Regions from separate parts of the Homo sapiens genome. Here region 2 is linked to region 1. The links come from fine-mapping of genetic effects on gene expression. Tissue or cell type: whole blood. Region 1 holds a variant in brackets; the other region holds the start of a gene. All regions are shown on one strand. Distances are from middle to middle.

The links. PIP is the estimated chance that this variant, and not a neighbour inherited with it, causes the effect.
Region 2: PIEZO1 starts here. The variant in region 1 is fine-mapped to the expression of PIEZO1 in whole blood (TOPMed, PIP above 0.99). The same link has a PIP of 0.9 or more in esophagus muscle, hypothalamus and lung.

What each region holds. Positions count from the first base shown.
Region 1 is chr16:88,713,767-88,721,766 of GRCh38, forward strand. It overlaps CTU2 (cytosolic thiouridylase subunit 2), which reads left to right. Exons shown (of 15, transcript NM_001012759.3): 9 at 1-12; 10 at 370-461; 11 at 617-720; 12 at 821-971; 13 at 1,094-1,160; 14 at 1,282-1,340; 15 at 1,416-1,630. The coding sequence ends at 1,485. It overlaps PIEZO1 (piezo type mechanosensitive ion channel component 1 (Er blood group)), which reads right to left. Exons shown (of 51, transcript NM_001142864.4): 38 at 7,772-7,960; 39 at 7,400-7,664; 40 at 6,850-6,982; 41 at 6,619-6,766; 42 at 6,303-6,517; 43 at 6,036-6,194; 44 at 5,808-5,955; 45 at 3,257-3,445; 46 at 3,040-3,132; 47 at 2,793-2,965; 48 at 2,595-2,717; 49 at 2,432-2,511; 50 at 2,167-2,353; 51 at 1,572-2,088. The coding sequence ends at 1,839. It overlaps MIR4722 (microRNA 4722), which reads right to left and starts at 2,571; the gene lies at 2,512-2,571. The variant A/G (reference allele first, on the strand shown) is at 3,564.
Region 2 is chr16:88,781,487-88,789,486 of GRCh38, forward strand. PIEZO1 (piezo type mechanosensitive ion channel component 1 (Er blood group)) reads right to left here and starts at 3,734. Exons shown (of 51, transcript NM_001142864.4): 1 at 3,415-3,734. The coding sequence starts at 3,478. RefSeq lists enhancers at 1-2, 23-392, 403-482, 2,965-3,878 and silencers at 2,563-2,882, 3,383-3,862, 3,903-4,232.

The DNA.
Region 1 (8,000 bases):
GTCGACACCAAGGTGGGCCTTGTGGGCTGGGCAACCTCTCTCACCATTGACACCGGGGTGGGCCATGTGGGCTGGGCAGCCTCTCACAGGCTCAGGTCACCAGCACACCTTCAGTGACTCCTGCTGTGGCCCCCAGCAGTGCTGCATCCTCTGAGCCCACCCTGTGCCGTGAGGGTGTGGGGGTGACAGGAGGACCCCACAGTGGGTGCACTGCTGAAGCGGGTTCTCTGGCTGCCTTGAGCAGTCGCAGCAAAGCCAGACCCATGTGGGCCAGCAGCGTGGAACCCACGGCACCTGTCCTGGGGACTCTGCCCCAGCCTGGGGCTGGCCTCTGGGCTTTCCCATAGCCTCCAATCTGATTGTCCCTAGGCCCCTGAAAAGGCCAGCATCCACCGGCTGATGGAGGCCTTCATCCTCAGGCTGCAGACCCAGTTCCCCTCCACTGTCAGCACTGTGTACAGGTGTGGGTGTGTGTGGGTGTGTGCGGGGGGTGCGCGGGTGTGTGCTGTGCGCGGGTGTGTGCGGGTGGTGAGCTCACCACTCGTGCTCAGGCCAGGGCTTAGGGTGGAGCCCCAGCCCGTGTGATTCACCTGCTCCTCCCACAATCCGGCCACAGGACAAGTGAGAAGCTGGTGAAGGGCCCCCGGGATGGCCCTGCTGCTGGCGACTCCGGCCCCCGCTGCCTCCTCTGCATGTGTGCCCTGGACGTCGACGCCGCTGGTCTGTGTTTCATGCTCTTGGGGTGATGCGGGGAGGGAGCCAGGGAGTGGGTGTGGGGGCTCAGCAGCCCCAGGCTCCGTCACCCCCTCTCTGCTTGCAGACAGTGCCACGGCTTTTGGGGCTCAGACCTCCTCGCGTCTCTCCCAGATGCAGTCACCCATCCCCCTGACTGAGACCCGGACACCCCCGGGGCCCTGCTGTTCTCCAGGGGTGGGCTGGGCCCAGCGCTGTGGCCAGGGGGCCTGCAGGAGGTGAGTCCCTGTCCCTGCCACCCATGGCCAGCTGCATGGGGCGGGAGGGGGACCTGTCCTTACCCCACACTGCACGGCATTGAGGTGCCAAGGTGGGCACACAGCCAGCTCTGCTCCCGCAGGGAGGACCCCCAAGCCTGCATTGAGGAGCAGCTGTGCTACAGCTGCCGCGTGAACATGAAGGACTTGGTGAGTACGTGCCCACCTGTCCTGGGCCGGGCTTGGGGACGCGGGAAGGCCGTCACCTCGTGGGTGGCTTGAGGGGGTGCTGGCAGGTTTCTTGGCCCCTCGACACCGGCCTCTGTTGCAGCCCTCACTGGACCCCCTGCCGCCGTACATCCTGGCTGAGGCCCAGCTCCGCACACAGAGGTACTGGGGCCCACACTGCCGTGGCGCGTGGGTAAGGGGCCTCGGGGCTGGTGCCCACTGCAGCTTTCTCTCTAGGGCCTGGGGCTTGCAGGAGATCCGGGACTGTCTGATTGAGGACAGTGACGACGAGGCGGGCCAGAGCTGAGCGTGAGGACGTGCTTGCCGGGACAGCAGGCAGTGGCCACCTGGTACACCACACTGGAGCCGGAAGGCAAGGACGGGGGACTGGCCTCTGATTGTCCATTTGTATAAATAAAACATTTTTTAATTAAAAAAAAAACTCTACAGTACACGTGGGGGACGGCAGCGCCACGCAGGCCGTGGGGACGCAGTGTCCTTCTCTGACAGCAGCATCAGGGCTCAGGCAGGCCGGGAGGATGCATCACAGCTGGCGGCCTTGGACGGGGCAGTGGCTCCCCCGGCCTGAGGAGTGCCGCCCCTTGTGGCCACGCTGCCCAGCAGGCCGGCTCCTTCCCTCTCGGGCGCCAGCAGCAGCTCCTACTCCTTCTCACGAGTCCACTTGATCATGGTCTCCGGTGAGCGGTAGAGGAAGATGAGCTTGGCGTACAACTCCTCCTCCAGCTCCAGCTCCCGAGTCTCCCGCACCAGGAAGATGTCCTGGCAGAGCTTGAGGATGCGGTCCACGCACGGCAGCTCCTCGAACATAATGGAGTGCGAGATCTCGCTGAAGAATCCGCGCACGAACTTGCCGATGACCAGCACGATGGACACGTACAGCCCCATGATGCTGCGGGGGAAGCTGGTGAGTCCTGGGGCCGCCCGGAGCCCCCCGAGCTGCGGGGTGCCCCCCCAGCCACTCACTCACCCGTAGCCAGCCAGGAAGCCGAGGCTCGGTGGGCTGACCTTGTCACTGAAAATGACCATGGGCAGCAGGTTGCAGTCGGTCCGGCACTCCTGCAGCTCGATGACCCACCATTCGAGGAAGCCGGTGGCCCCCGCACCCTGCTCCCTCCGCAGCTGGATACGCACGCCGAGGTAGTCGGCCTCCTCATCTGGGATGGAGGGAGAAGATCGTTGAGGCCGCAGGTCACCCCTCTCTAGCCTCCCCCAACCCCCACGCCCATACTCACTGGGCTGCAGCTGCTTCACAGGGTTGGCTTCGGGCCCGTTGGGGGCACGGATGTACTTGGGGAAGAGATTAGGGATGACCCTGCAGGGAGGTGCTGGCAGGTCAGGCCTGGCCCAGCCAACCTGGCACAGCCCTCCTGCCCACCACCCGGGCCCTTCACTCACACAGACTGGTCCGAGGTGCCCTCGAGCAGGCTGGCCAGCTGCCGCCGTGCAGTGCTGTTGGGGGCCAGGGCCAGCATGTGCTTCTCGTTGGCATACTCCACAGTGCCTCCCTTCGCCAGGTCCCTGGGGGTGGGAACACAGCGTGACCCACTGTAGTGGGTCCACCCACCCAGGCACTGCCCCAAGTCCAGGACGAACCTCTGGAAGTTCCAGGTGAAGCGCAGGGTGATGTCGGCCGTGCCGTTGTAGAGCTCCCGCTTCATCTGGGCACGGCTGGGGGGACTGATGCGCCACAGCGCCCCGGAGCTGCCCTCAATCTGCGCCGTGACGATGTCCTCAGGGCTGTACTGGCTGATGAACTGCATGGCCAGCTGGGTACAAGTGACACCCTCAGTGACTGCAGCCGCCTCCCCACACCAGCTTTCACAGGGCAGAGGCCACTTACCGGCTGGGGGTCAAACTGCCGGGACAGCTCCTCATAGGCCTGGGCCGTGAAGGGGATGATGGACGGCTGCTGGGCGCTCATGGTGAACAGCGGCTGGGGCAGGCACGGGGACACGGGGCCACGAAGATGAGCGTGGAGGAGCGGCTGGGGGTGGTGCACCACCTTGGCCAGAACCCCCAGGGGATGGGAATGGACAGGCGGACCCACACATGCTCACCTCATAGCCGCCCAGCTTCAGGGTGACGGTGACATCGATGGGCTGGTTGACAACCCCAACCACGGAGCGCACCAGCGACATGAAGAGCAGTGGGAACCAGATGATGGCGATGAGGAAGAGGATGATGAGGCCACCCATGCCGTACTTGACGATCTTCTTCTTCTTCTGCCCTTTGGGCTGCGGGTATTTCTGGAGGGGAACGACACAGGTCATACGCTCAGCTCTGCCCTTCCTGCGGGTCACACAACCGCATTCTCCAGCTCACCCAGCAGCCCAGAAAAGCCCCAGCCTGACCTCAGTATGGCAC[A/G]GCGGTAGTAATGGTGGGCAGACACAGGCCAGTGGAGTAGAACTAAGAGTCCAGTTGGAACCCTCATGTTCAGGGGTCGTTGATCTTAGACAAGGGAGCTGTGACCGTTCAGTGGGAACGGACAACCTTTTTCAACACGGTGCAGGCACCGCCCCAGGCAGGAGAATGAAACGCAACTCCTGCCTCATACCATGTGCCAAAATTTACCTCAAAGTGGATCAAAGAGCGAAACTTCAGAGCTAAAACTATAGAACTTTTAGAAGAAAACGGGCAAATCTTCATGAACCTGGATTTGGCGAAGGAAACAAAGTAAACCAGATATTACCAAAATAAATACTTTGTGCTTCCAAAGACACCAAGAAAATTTAAGAGACAGTCCATAGAATTGGAGAAATTTTCTGCAAATTTTAATTGATAAGGTTCTAGCAACCAGAGAATACAGAGAATTCTTCCAATTCAGTCATTTCTAGCCAATGTATCTGCAGAAAAACAGAAAAAACTCTAATAAAAAACAACCCAACTGCTGGGTGTGGCGGCTCACACTTGTCATCCCAGCACTTTGAGGTCAGGAGTTTGAGACGAACCTGGCCAAAAATACAAAAGACTAGCCAGGCCTGGTGGTGCACACCTGTAGTCCCAGCTACTCGGGAGGCTGAGGTGGGAGAATCGCTTGAACCTGGGAGGCAGAGGCTACAGTGAGTGAAGGTCATGCCACTGCACTTCAGCCTGAGATCCTATCTCAAAAGCCCAACTAAACTATGGAGAAAGGATTTGAATAGACATTTCCCCAGAGAAGATACACAAATGGCCAAGCACATGAAAAGACGCTCAGCGTCGGTCAACAGGGAACTGAGAAGAGCCCACAGCAAGCCACCCGTTCAGCAGCATGGCCAGAACAAAAAAGACATAGTAACAGGTTGTTGAGGATGTGGAGAAACCGCAACCTCGTGTTGGTGGTGGGAACCTTAGATGGTGGAGCTGCTATGGAAAACCAGCAGCTCCTCATGATGGAAACCACCACCAGCACTTCCGGCCCTGGCGTGCAGCCACAGGACCAGGGGCACGGGCACACAGACGTGTACACCGGCGTGCCTGGCAGCATCACGGGCAACAGCCCATCAACAGATGAGCATGTTGTGGTCCATCCATGCCACAGAATATCATTTGCCCATAAACAGGAAGGCCATACTGCCACGTGGGTGGACCTCAGAGACACCATGCTGAGCAAGGAAAGCTGATTACAAAAGGACAAACGCTGTCTGAGCCTGTTTTCATGAAATATCCACTGTAGGCAAATCTCATAGAACCAGGACCTAGACAAGGGGTTACTAGGGGCCAGGGGAGGGGAAACCGAGTGACAGCCAATGGGCACTGGGTTTCTTCTTTTTACTTTTTTAGAGACAGGGTCTCACTCTGTTGCCCAAGCTGGAGTGCAGTGGTGTGATCAGGCTTAATGCAGCCCTGTACTCCTGGCCTCAAGCCATCCTCCCACCTCAGCCTCCAGAGTAGCTGGGAGCACAAGTGTGCACCATCACACCCAGCTAACGTTTATTTTTTTGTAGAGAGAGTCTCACTCACTATGTTGCCCAGGCTGGTCTTAAAACTCCTGGCCTCAACTGATCCTCCTCCTTTGGCCTCCCAAAGTGCTGGGACCATAGGCATGAGCTGCCATTGCCAGCTAATTGTTTTATTTTTACATTTGCTGAGGCAGGGTCTCGCTTGTGGCCGTGCAGATCTTGAACTCCTGGCCTTGAGCAGTACCTCCCTCCTGGGTCTCTTACAGTGCTGGGATGATAGGGGTGAGCCGCTGTGCCCGGCCCGGGGTTTCTTTTTGAAGTGGTGAGAAGGCAGATGCTCAACTGTGAATCCACTAGAAACCCCTGAGTTGTACTTTTTACGTGGGGGAGTGGTCTGACGCACGAATTCTCTCTGAGAAAGGCCATTAAACAAGAATGCAGCAAACAGTGGCTGTCCGGTCCTCCCTGCACCAGGCCCTGCTCTGCTGCCAGCCTGCCTGGAACAGGACCAACTCCGCTGCCCACTTCTGCGCCCAGCACTCACTCGCAGCTGCCAAGATCACTGGCCTCGTGATCAGCTAGTGGGTGGGCTCGCCTCATGTCCCCATGGGCTCCGAGCCCTGGGAGGGCCTCCAGCACCACGGGTTCTCGTGGCAGCAGTGCCTCTGTCTTAGGGAGAGGGCATATCCCTGGCCCTTGTCCCGGCCCCCGCCCTGGGCCCAGGCACCTTCTCTGTCTCTCGGCTGCATTTGATGATGAAGATGTTGGCATAGATGTCCTCCACACACATCCAGCTGGACAGGGACAGCGTGGTGTCCGTCCACACCCAGTCCATCACTGCCCGCAGCTCCACCAGGAACGGCACCAGCCGGAACCTGCCCACAGCCAGGGTTCCCGTCAGGTGGGCTCCCTCATGCCCGGGCCGTGACCCCCACCCCGGCGGACCTGCACTCACCCCTGGAAGAGGAAGAGGTTGAGATGATTGTACTTCTTGGTGAGGAAGTTGCCGAGGATGCGGGTGGGGTAGCCGCAGCGGATCTGGTAGGCGGACAGGGCGAAGTAGATGCACTTCACGAAGTACCAGAGCTGGGCCACCACATTCTGGTTGAACATCCTGGGGCGGGATGGCCAGGTCAAGGACCCCATCAGAAACAGCCCCGCAGGGCCCCCAGCCTGCACTGCCCCGCCCCTGGAGACCGAGCGCCCCCACGCGTGGGCCCACCTCTCAGTGACGGCGGGCAGGATGAAGAACATCCATAGGTGGATGGCCAGCACCAGCGCCACCTGGAAGGCCAGCTTGCCCAGCACGGTCTTGCGCAGGTAGAGGGCGCGGTCAACCACCATGGTACTGAACTGGATCAGCAGCATGACCAGGAAAGCCTCGGGTACCTGGTCGTCTGATAGGGAGGACGTGATGTCTGTGGCCGCCGAGTGCTTCTGTGGCCAGGAGAGCACAGGTCAGGGGGAGCCAAGCCCAGGGGATGTGGGTGGCTGCTGAGCTCTGCGTACACTGGGTTTGGGTCCCGGGCCTGGCTCACCCCAAAGGCCCAGAAGCCAAAAATGATGATGATGAAGTCGACAACATCAGCCAGGAACATGAGGGCATAGACGTCGGTGGCTGCGCGGTACTTGGTGTGCAGGATGTCGTGGAAGAAGCGCCGTAGCGGCCGATATGTGCCCTGGGCCCTGCGGAAGGGGGCGCTCAGCCTGGGCCCAGTACCCGCCTCCCCACCCCCACTCCCCAGCTGCCCCCGGCCGCCATCACTCACAGGGACAGGCAGAAGCCCTGCAGCCGCCGCCCGGCCGCCCTTACTCTTCCTCCAGAGCGGCTTGGCCTCTTCTCTCTCCCCGTGGGGGCCTCTTTCTCTTCCTCCCCCTCTTCTTCCTCCCTGTCCTCAGCTTCTGTAGGGAAAAGCTGACTTCTGCCTGGGCCCCCTGGGGACTGGGCCTGGCTCATGGCTCCTGACCACCCTAAGAGGCTGGCATTCTCCCTGTTTGACAGACAAGCAGACGGAGCACAGGAAAGCTCCCAGTGTCACTGGCAAGGAGACAGCTGGGGCTGTGTCCTCTGTCTGGGGCAACTGTGAGGGGCCAGCCCAGGCCAACAGTCACCCTACACGTGGGGAGCATCCCCGGGGGCAGCAGTCAGGGACGGCTCTGTAGGCAGAGCCGGGAGCTGTGGCTCAGAAGTGGCACCTTCCTGGGATCCAGGTGGGCCTCGCACTGGGCTTGGCCGTCTCATCTGAGAAAGACCCTCCCTGCAGTAGCCCCACTCAGAAAACTGGGTAGGCAGGAGGTTGTGAGGCAGGGCGCTTATACCGATGGCTGCCGCTCCTTTCCGTGCTGGGCCCTCCTTCTTCCTTCTTCTAAAACGTAGACTGATGCGCCTCGTATCACGGGGCCTGAGCTCCACTTGGGGTTCTGGGGTCCCGTCCGTGGGTCCGACCCTGGCTTCCACCTGAATGTGGTCTTCGGTGGTGGCCGCAGGCACCCCTGGCCCCTCCTCGGCTCCCTGCTCCTCCTCGCCGCTCTTGTCATGCTCCTTGGATGGTGAGTCCTCCTCATGGTCCCAGAGGCCATAGCACTGAGGGGCGGGAGGGTGTGGTGAGGGGGCCTTGCCTCCCTGGTGGAGAGCACAGGTGCCCAGAGGGCCTGCCCAGCCCCGCATTGCCAGCCAAGGCTCACACTCACCAGCAGCTGGGAGCGGTGGAAGAAAAGGGCCATGAGCTGCACCAGGTCGTACTTGATGTAGCCGTCAGTCTTCTCCAGGCCCAGGATGCGGGGCGGGAAGTAGGGCTTGTTCTCGTAGCGCCGCAGCACCACGTGGCTGTTCCAGGGGAAGAACCCAAACTGGAACAGGTACTTGACGACCACCGCGATCTGTGGGGGAGGGGGCTCAGCACGCGGGGAGGGTCACGGC
Region 2 (8,000 bases), 68 kb after region 1:
GCTCTCCTGCTGACTCATCCAGCCTCCAGGCCCAGCATGGGGACAGAGTGCGCCCCTCTGTCACACCAGGGAGCTGATGCTCAGAAGGGGCCCCCAAGCCACAGAGGAAAGCAGCTCCCACCCTACTCTGCCACGGCCATGCTCTTCCCAGCACCCTCGGATGGGACAGGCCAGGGTTCTGTGCAGGTCCTGAGACCCGGGCACAGGCCTCCGAAGGGTGACTCTGCCATGCTCAGCTCAGAGGGTCTGCACTGCTGAGCAACTGTGAGCCGAGTGCCTGCTGTTCCCCAGCTTCTCGGCCGCCTCCCAGGAGTGGTGAGACCCTGATGGTGACAATGTTCTGAAAAAGGAGGCAGCATCCCTCATGCTAAATGGTGACACTTCTCAGTGACAATCAGCCTGAAGGAGGTGACGCCCAGCTTGCCGGCCGTGGGTGTGCCCCTAGGCTGTGCCACGAGGCACCCTGAAAAGCAGAAGCCATATTGTCAGCCCACGTGGGTGTCCCACAGTCAGTGACACGGTGGCTCCTCTCGCACCAGCTGGCTTTCCGCAGCCCTGTCTAGATTTCCCACTGATAGAACTGGAGGTGCGGTCCCATATTATCAGAATCACAAATGTCCTGCCCTTTTTTTTCCTTTTTCTTTTTTGAGACAGGGTCTGTCACCCAGGCTGGAGTGCAGTCATACAATCATGGCTCACTGTAGCCTCCAACTCCTGGACTCAAACAATCATCCCACCTTGGCCTCCTGAGTAGCTGGGACTACAGGTGCACTACCACCATGCCCAGCTAATTTTTAAATATTTTTCATAGAGATGGGGATCTCTACGTTGCCCAGGCTGCTCTCGAATGGCTACGCTCAAGCAATCCTCCCACCTTGGCCTCCCGAAGCTCTGGGATTACAGGTGTGAGCCATCGCGCCCAGCCCTGCCCTGACATCTCTCTAGAAGAGATGGGCCCTGATCCCCCAAGGCTCCAGCAACATTAGGTGAGACTGCTGAAGGAGGCCCCTGCTCCCTGTGGGTGGGGCAGCTCCCTGCCAGATTTTTGGGTAATGATCCTGCACTGGAGAGGGAGGGCGTGGGGGCCAGGGGCACCCCAGGATGACTCAAACCCTCACCAGGCACTGTCTGAGCCAGCGCAGGCACACACTGACTAATGCCTTCTGAAGGCCTCATTCATTTCCAAAACACGGTAGAACTGCTTCCAGCCAAAGCTCGCCAGAGAGGGAGGGGGCACTCCAAAGACAGCAAAGCCAGTGTCCCACCTCCGGCCAGGCCAGCTGAACCTGCACATCGCGGGTCCATCTGGAGCTGCCCACACCCCAGGGCCAGAGAGCCTGACTCAGGAGTCCCGGCCAGCAGGCAGGCAGGCAGGGTTCTTGGCCGGCTCCACTTCCATCTCCCCCAGGTGACTGAGAGAAAACACTGAGTGAGGCCCAGGCCCCACGCCCCATCCCCAGACACAGAATCAGTGTGGGGTATGGCCCGGGCTTCAGCATCTTTCAAATTAAGAGACTTTATTTGGGACCAGTTTTAGGTTTAAGGAAAGTACCATACAGACAGACAGTCAGTCATCACTATTCTTTAAAAGTTTCATAGAAGACTGACACGGGGCCTGGGTGAGCACCCCTGGGCTACCTCCCCATCCTCCCCAAGGAGGCCAAAAGCAAGAAGAACAGTGATCCCTCCCCCAGATCCCCCACGCGGATAGCAATCGAGAAGGCAGAACCCAGGCCCCCTGACCAATGCCCAGGGGGCAGCAAACCACATGTGCCACAGAATCGGGCTCAACACCTGTTTAGGTACAGCCCATGAACTCAGGAGGGCTTTTACATTTAATGGCTGGAAAAATACCAGAAGAAGAAGATTTTGTGACATGAAAATATTTACCATCTGGTCATTTAAAGAAAAACATTGCCAACTCTGCCCAAGGAGCAGCTGCCATCTGAGAGGGGGGGCATTCCCTGCAGGGAGGACACCCGCTCCCACTCAGACACAAGAGGAAATGGAACGATCAGTGTGAACGGGACGTTTCAGAAGCTTTCCTGTTTCCCTCTCTAAGGCCTGTCAGCTCTAGACTCTGCCTCTGTGCCAGGCTGTCCTGCTTGTTTTCAAGGCACAGGAAGGAACACAGCCGGGCCCTGTTTACGGCCCATCTGACCCTGCACTGGGAGCAGGTCCCAGGCTGCCCAGTCCACACAGGGCTGACCGCACTGAAGAGAGTTGCTCAAAACCTCTCCTCTCCAGCCTCAATGGTTTTCATTGATTCCTGTCTAGAAAATCTTCCCCAAGTTTCACCACCTTTCTGTGCGACCGATCAAAACGCAGTCTGTCTGGGAGCCTCAGGCAGGCGGCTCTAGATCCCCAAAGCTAGCGCTGGGCGAGCTCCCACCTGGAGCGAGGCAAGGGCTCCGAAAGGGCTTTTACAATCAAAAGGCCCCACCTGCCGTGTCCATGGCGGACTCCCAATGCAAACCGTCCCACTTGTCCGTGGGTTAATTCCATCCGACTGCTTCCCAGATCAATCACACGTGGGGAGCCCCCGGGCGGAGGGCGCGGACCCTGGGTCCCGGCTAGGCCAGGGTCGGGGAAGGGTAGGGGTGCCAGGCCGTGCAGCACCAAGCCACCCGGGTGTGCTTCGCGAAAGGGGCACCACTGCCCGGCAAGCAGGGAACACAGATGCCAGGACTGGGGACCCCTGCCCCGCCCTGACACCAGGCCACAGCCTCCGGGGGTGTCCCCTCCCCCAGACCAGGGCAGAGGCCGGCCCCCGCCCCTGCGAAACTGAGCCCAGTAGGGCAAGGGAGGACCAGGGAGGAACCCACACTATTTTTTTCCAAAGTGTGGGACCGCCTCAGTCCGGCAGAGGGGGGTGCAGCGGTGAGCGGGGCTGGGCCCTGGGCACGGACGTTCGTTGGGCTCGGGAAGCTCCAAATTAAACAGCTCCAGGCAGGAAGCCCGCCTTCTCCCAGATTGTCAGGAAGTCCTGATGCAACTTTGCGCTTTTTTTTTTAAACCCGAAAGAGAAAAAGAGATTCGTGCTCCCCCCACCACCGCCGCGGCCCTTCCCACCGGGGCAAACACCGCCTCGCCCGGCGGCCTCCTCTCCGCAGCGCCCCGGCGGAGACGCCAGCCGCGCTATGCCCGGCGCTCGCTCGACCGCCCCCGTGGGCACGCGGTGCCGTCTCCCCCAGCCGCCGCCGCCCTTCCAGCCCGGCCCTGGGACAGGAGCCCCGCCGCCGCCTGGCGCGCTCATGCTTCAGGAATGCGGGCGCCCGGGTCGCGCGTCCCTGGGAATTTCCGCGCCCGCTCGCCCGCAGCCCTCGCCCCGGCCGGCGTCGTCCGGTGTCCAGGCCGTGGGGAGCCGAGACGCAGCCCCCTCCCGTCGCCCCCAGGCGCCCGCCCCCCACTCACCAGCCAGCAGCGCGCAGGGCAGCAGCAGCCAGTACAGGACCGCGCCGAGCACGTGCGGCTCCATGGCTGGAGGGCCCAGGGCCCGGCCCAGACCGAGCGGACGCCGCGGCGCTATGGGGCGGTGCGGGGGCCCCGGGGCCGGCGCGCCATGGCTGACCCGCGGGGACCCGCGCGCCGCCTTCTCCTCTTCCTCCTTCTCCTTCGGCCGCCCCGCCGGTGCCGACGTCCCGGGCCCGCGCTCGCTCAGGCGACCGCCCTGCCCCTCGGCGGAGCGCAGCGCTCGGCTCACTGGGGCCGAGCTGGGCCGGACGGCGGCTCCCGCCCTCCTCCGCCCGCGGGCCTTTATAAGCTCGGCCCCCTCCCGCCCTCCCCGGCGTGCCCGCCTCCGCGCTTCCCCGACGGCCCGGCGCGCCCAGGCACCCCCTCCGCTGTCCCGCGCGGCCCGTCCCGCCTCCGGCCCGCCCTGGTGCGTTGGGGCCTGGAGACCCCCGACTGGCGCTGGCCCGGAGCGGACCCCTCCCCTCCCGCAGTCTTGGCCCCGCGGCTCCGAGCGTGCGCGGCGGTGGGCAGGGGCGCTTCTCGCTGGGTGGGCTGCGGCTGGGGCCCGGGCGCTACATAAGGGGTCCCGGGGCCTCTGGCTCCCCCAGGCAGCGCCCCACGCGCAACTGCACCCCGCGTGCCCGAGCGACTTTCGCTTTGCTCCCCGAGGCGCGAGCACGCAGCGCCCCCTGGGGACCGTGGGGAGGCTCGGAGTTCCCGCGGCGGCCGGGCCTAGTGGTCCCGGAGGGAGCACGCGGGATGCTCGGGTCGCAGCAGTGCCGCGATCCGCGTTGGTCTGACGGGGGCTCGGGGGCTGCTCCCAGCCACGCCGGCCACCGCGCGCGGCTTTGCCCGGGTCGCTCTGGCGTGAGACGGTGAGAGTGAGAGCCACGGCCTGTGCACCTGCTGCCGCGGCGCCCTGCCACGGAGAGGTAGGGTCTGAGTCCAGGGTGTTCGGGACCCTCACCCAGGCCACGTCAGTTTGGCCTTCGTCTGCCCTTGAGATGGGCACAGAAAGAGGGCAAAGGGCTCTACACCGTTTAATTGGGCTCAGTTCATGGCTCTCAAACTCAGCTGCGTAAGGCAGGGAGTGGGGCTGGGGGGACTGTGGCCACTGAGCCTCAAGGCACTGGCAACTCATGAGAGCCCAGCACAAGCCCACACCCTCCAGCTCAAAAAAAAAAAAAAAAAAAAAAGATGGCGGGGCAGTGGCTCAGGCCTGTAATCCCAGCACTTTGCGGGGCTGAGGCAAGGGGGTAGGGGGTCGGGGGATCACTTGACGTCAGGAGTTCGAGACCAGCCTGGCCAACATGGTGAAACCCCGTCTCTACTAAAAATACAAAAATTAGGCCGGGCGCGGTGGCTCACGCCTGTAATCCCAGCACTTTGGGAGGCCGAGGCGGGTGGATCACCAGGTCAGGAGATCGAGACCATCCTGGCTAACACGGTGAAAACCCATCTCTACTAAAAACATAAAAAATTAGCCGGGCGTGGTGGCGGGCTCCTGTAGTCCCAACTACTCGGGAGGCTGAGGCAGGAGAATGGCATCAACCCAGGAGGCGGAGCTTGCAGTGAGCCGAGATAGCGCCACTGCACTCCAGCCTGGGCGACAGAGCCAGACTCCGTCTCAATAAATAAATAAATAAATAAATAAATAAATAAATAAATATACAAAAATTAGCCGGGCGTGATGGCAGGCGCCTGTATTCCCAACTACTCAGGAGGCCGAGGCAGGAAAATCGCTTGAACCTGGGAGGCAGAGGTTGCCGTGAGCCGAGATCATGCCATTGCACTCCAGCCTGAGTGACAAGAACGAAACTCCATTAAAAAAAAAAAAACCACCCAGAAATGGAGATTTTCATGGGAAGTCTAGTGTTTAAAGGCTGATATAGGCCGGGTGCGGTGGCTCACGCCTGTAATCCCAGCACTTTTGGAGGCCGAGGCGGGTGGATCACGAGGTCAGCAGATGGAGACCATCCTGGCTAACACGGTGAAACCCCATCTCTACTAAAAATACAAAAAATTAGCCGGGCGCGGTGGCGGGCGCCTGTAGTCCCAGCTACTCGGAAGGCTGAGGCAGGAGAATGGCGTGAACCCGGGAGGCGGAGCTTGCAGTGAGCCGAGATCACCCCACTGCACTCCAGCCTGGGCAACAGAATGAGACTCCATCTCAAAGAAGAAAAAAAAAAAAGGCTGATTTACTTTCTCTGCAAGTCTCACCCTCTGGTCAGGCTTTGAAAAGTTGCTGCAGAGGTGGGGAAGTCTGGGAGCTTGCCCTGCAGATGGACTTGCAAAGGTAGAGGATGTATGTGTCCTAGAATTGTTCAAGCAGCAAAAAGCAGAAAAACTCTGCCCACAGAAGCTTGTCAAATAAATGATAGCGTGTCTCACAGTGGAGTGCTACACAGCAGGTAAAAAACAGAATCCGGCTAGGTGTTTTGTATCAACATGAAGCTAAGATACAATGGCACTCTGTAGCAGCGGTTAGAGAGAATCCCGCAATTGCTCTGTTATCAAGGAGGAACAATTGCTAAGTTACAGTGCTAACAATTGGGAAAAGCAAGCAGCTACACTCAGGGCCACGCTCACCCACTTGGGGTGGGAGGGAGACCTGGTCTTCACCTATACCCTTTGGTGCTGTTTTAATATTTTGCTTCATACATAATTCACTTATTCACAAAATAAAATTAGCAAAATGGAGACAAATACTCTGAAAAAGATCTCTGCTTGCCAGCCAGGGAGAGGTGGGGCGGGCAAGGGCAGGGGAGCCCACCTGTGCCCAGTTCACTGCCCGTTCAGGAATTTGGACCGTGTTCTAACTCAACCCCTGTTGCAGAAGAGGACGCTAAGGGCCAGAGCGGGATAACCATTTGCCAAAGGAATAGACCGGCCTTTGCACCCAGCTTTCCAGATTCCAAGTCCAAAGTCACTCCTGTCCCACTGACCCACAGCTGGGAGCCCTTTCTCAACTTGCTGTTGCTTTTTATTTTTGTCACTGTTTAAAACAGTGATTTATTTTTTATTTTATTGTATTTTCTTGAGACAAAGTCTGCCACTGTTGTCCAGGCTGGAGTGCAGTGGAGCAATCTCGGCTCACTGCACCCTCCGCCTCCTGAGTTCTAGTGATTCTCCTGCCTCAACCTCCCAAGTAGCTGGGATCACAGGCGTGTGCCACCACACCTGGCCAACTTTTGTATTTTTAGTAGAGATGGGATTTCAAAATGTTGGCCAGGTCTTGAACTCCTGACCTCAAATGATCCGCCTGCCTTGACCTCCCAAACTGCTGGGATTACAGGTGTGAGCCACCATGCCCGGCCAGTGACTTAGTCTTGGGAGAGCAACAATGGTCAGGTCCCCTTGGGAGAGAGGAAAAGCCAGGGCAAGAGGGGTCACAGGGACTTTAAGCTTTATCATGCAGGTTGTAACTTTTTCCCCAATGATAACATAGTCACCATTACTTGTCTATACTTAAAAATTAATTTCAGGCTGGGTGTGGTGGCTCACGTCTGTAATCCCAACACTTTGGGGGCCTAAGGCAGGAGAATGGCTTGTGGCCAGGAGTTGGAGACCAGCCTGGACAACACAGCAAGACCCCATCTATACAAAAAATAAAAATTAGCCAGGCATGCCAGGCAGGCATGGTGCCTCATGCCTGTAATCCCAGCACTTTGGGAGGCTGAGGCGGGTGGATCACAGGGTCAGGAGTTCGAGACCAGCCTGGCCAACATGGTGAAACCCTGTCTCTACTAAAATACAAAAATTAGCCAGGCGTGGCAGCAGGCACCTGTAATCCCAGCTACTCGGGAAGCTGAGGCAGAATCGCTTGAACCCGGGAGGCAGAGGTTGCAGTGAGCCAAGACCATGCCATTACACTCCAGCCTGGGTGACAGAGCGAGACTCCGCCTCAAAAAAAAAAAAAATTAGCCAGATGTGGTGGTGCCTGCCTGTGGTCCCGGCTACTTAGGAGGCTGAGGTGGGAGGATCTCTAGAGCCCAGGAGGTGGAGGCTGCAGTGAGTAGTGATGGCGCCACTGCACTCCGGCCTGGACAACAGGCCAAGACCCTGTCTCAAAAATAATAATAATTTTGGCCGGGCACTGTGGCTCACACCTGCAACACCAGCACTTTGGGAGGCTGAGGTGGGTGGATCACTTGAGGTCAGGGGTTCAAGACCAGCCTGGCCAACATGGTGAAACCCTGTCTCTACTAAAAATACAAAAATTAGCCGGGCATGGTAGCGCATGCCTGTGGTTCCAGCTACTCGGGAGGCTGAGGCGGGAGAATCGCTTGATCCCAGGAGGTGGAGATTGCAGTGAGCTGAGATCATGCCACTGCACTCCTGCCTGGGTGAAAGAGCAAGACCCTGTCTCAAAAAAAGTAATAAAATAAATAATAATTTCAAGAGGCAGCAACCCCAGAGTCTGTTAATGGAGTGTAGAAACAAAATGTGGTCTGTTCATACAATCTGATATTATTTGTCCATAAAAAGAAATGAAACTCTGATGTACGCTACAACAGGGATGAACTTGTGTGTGTGTGTGTGAGACA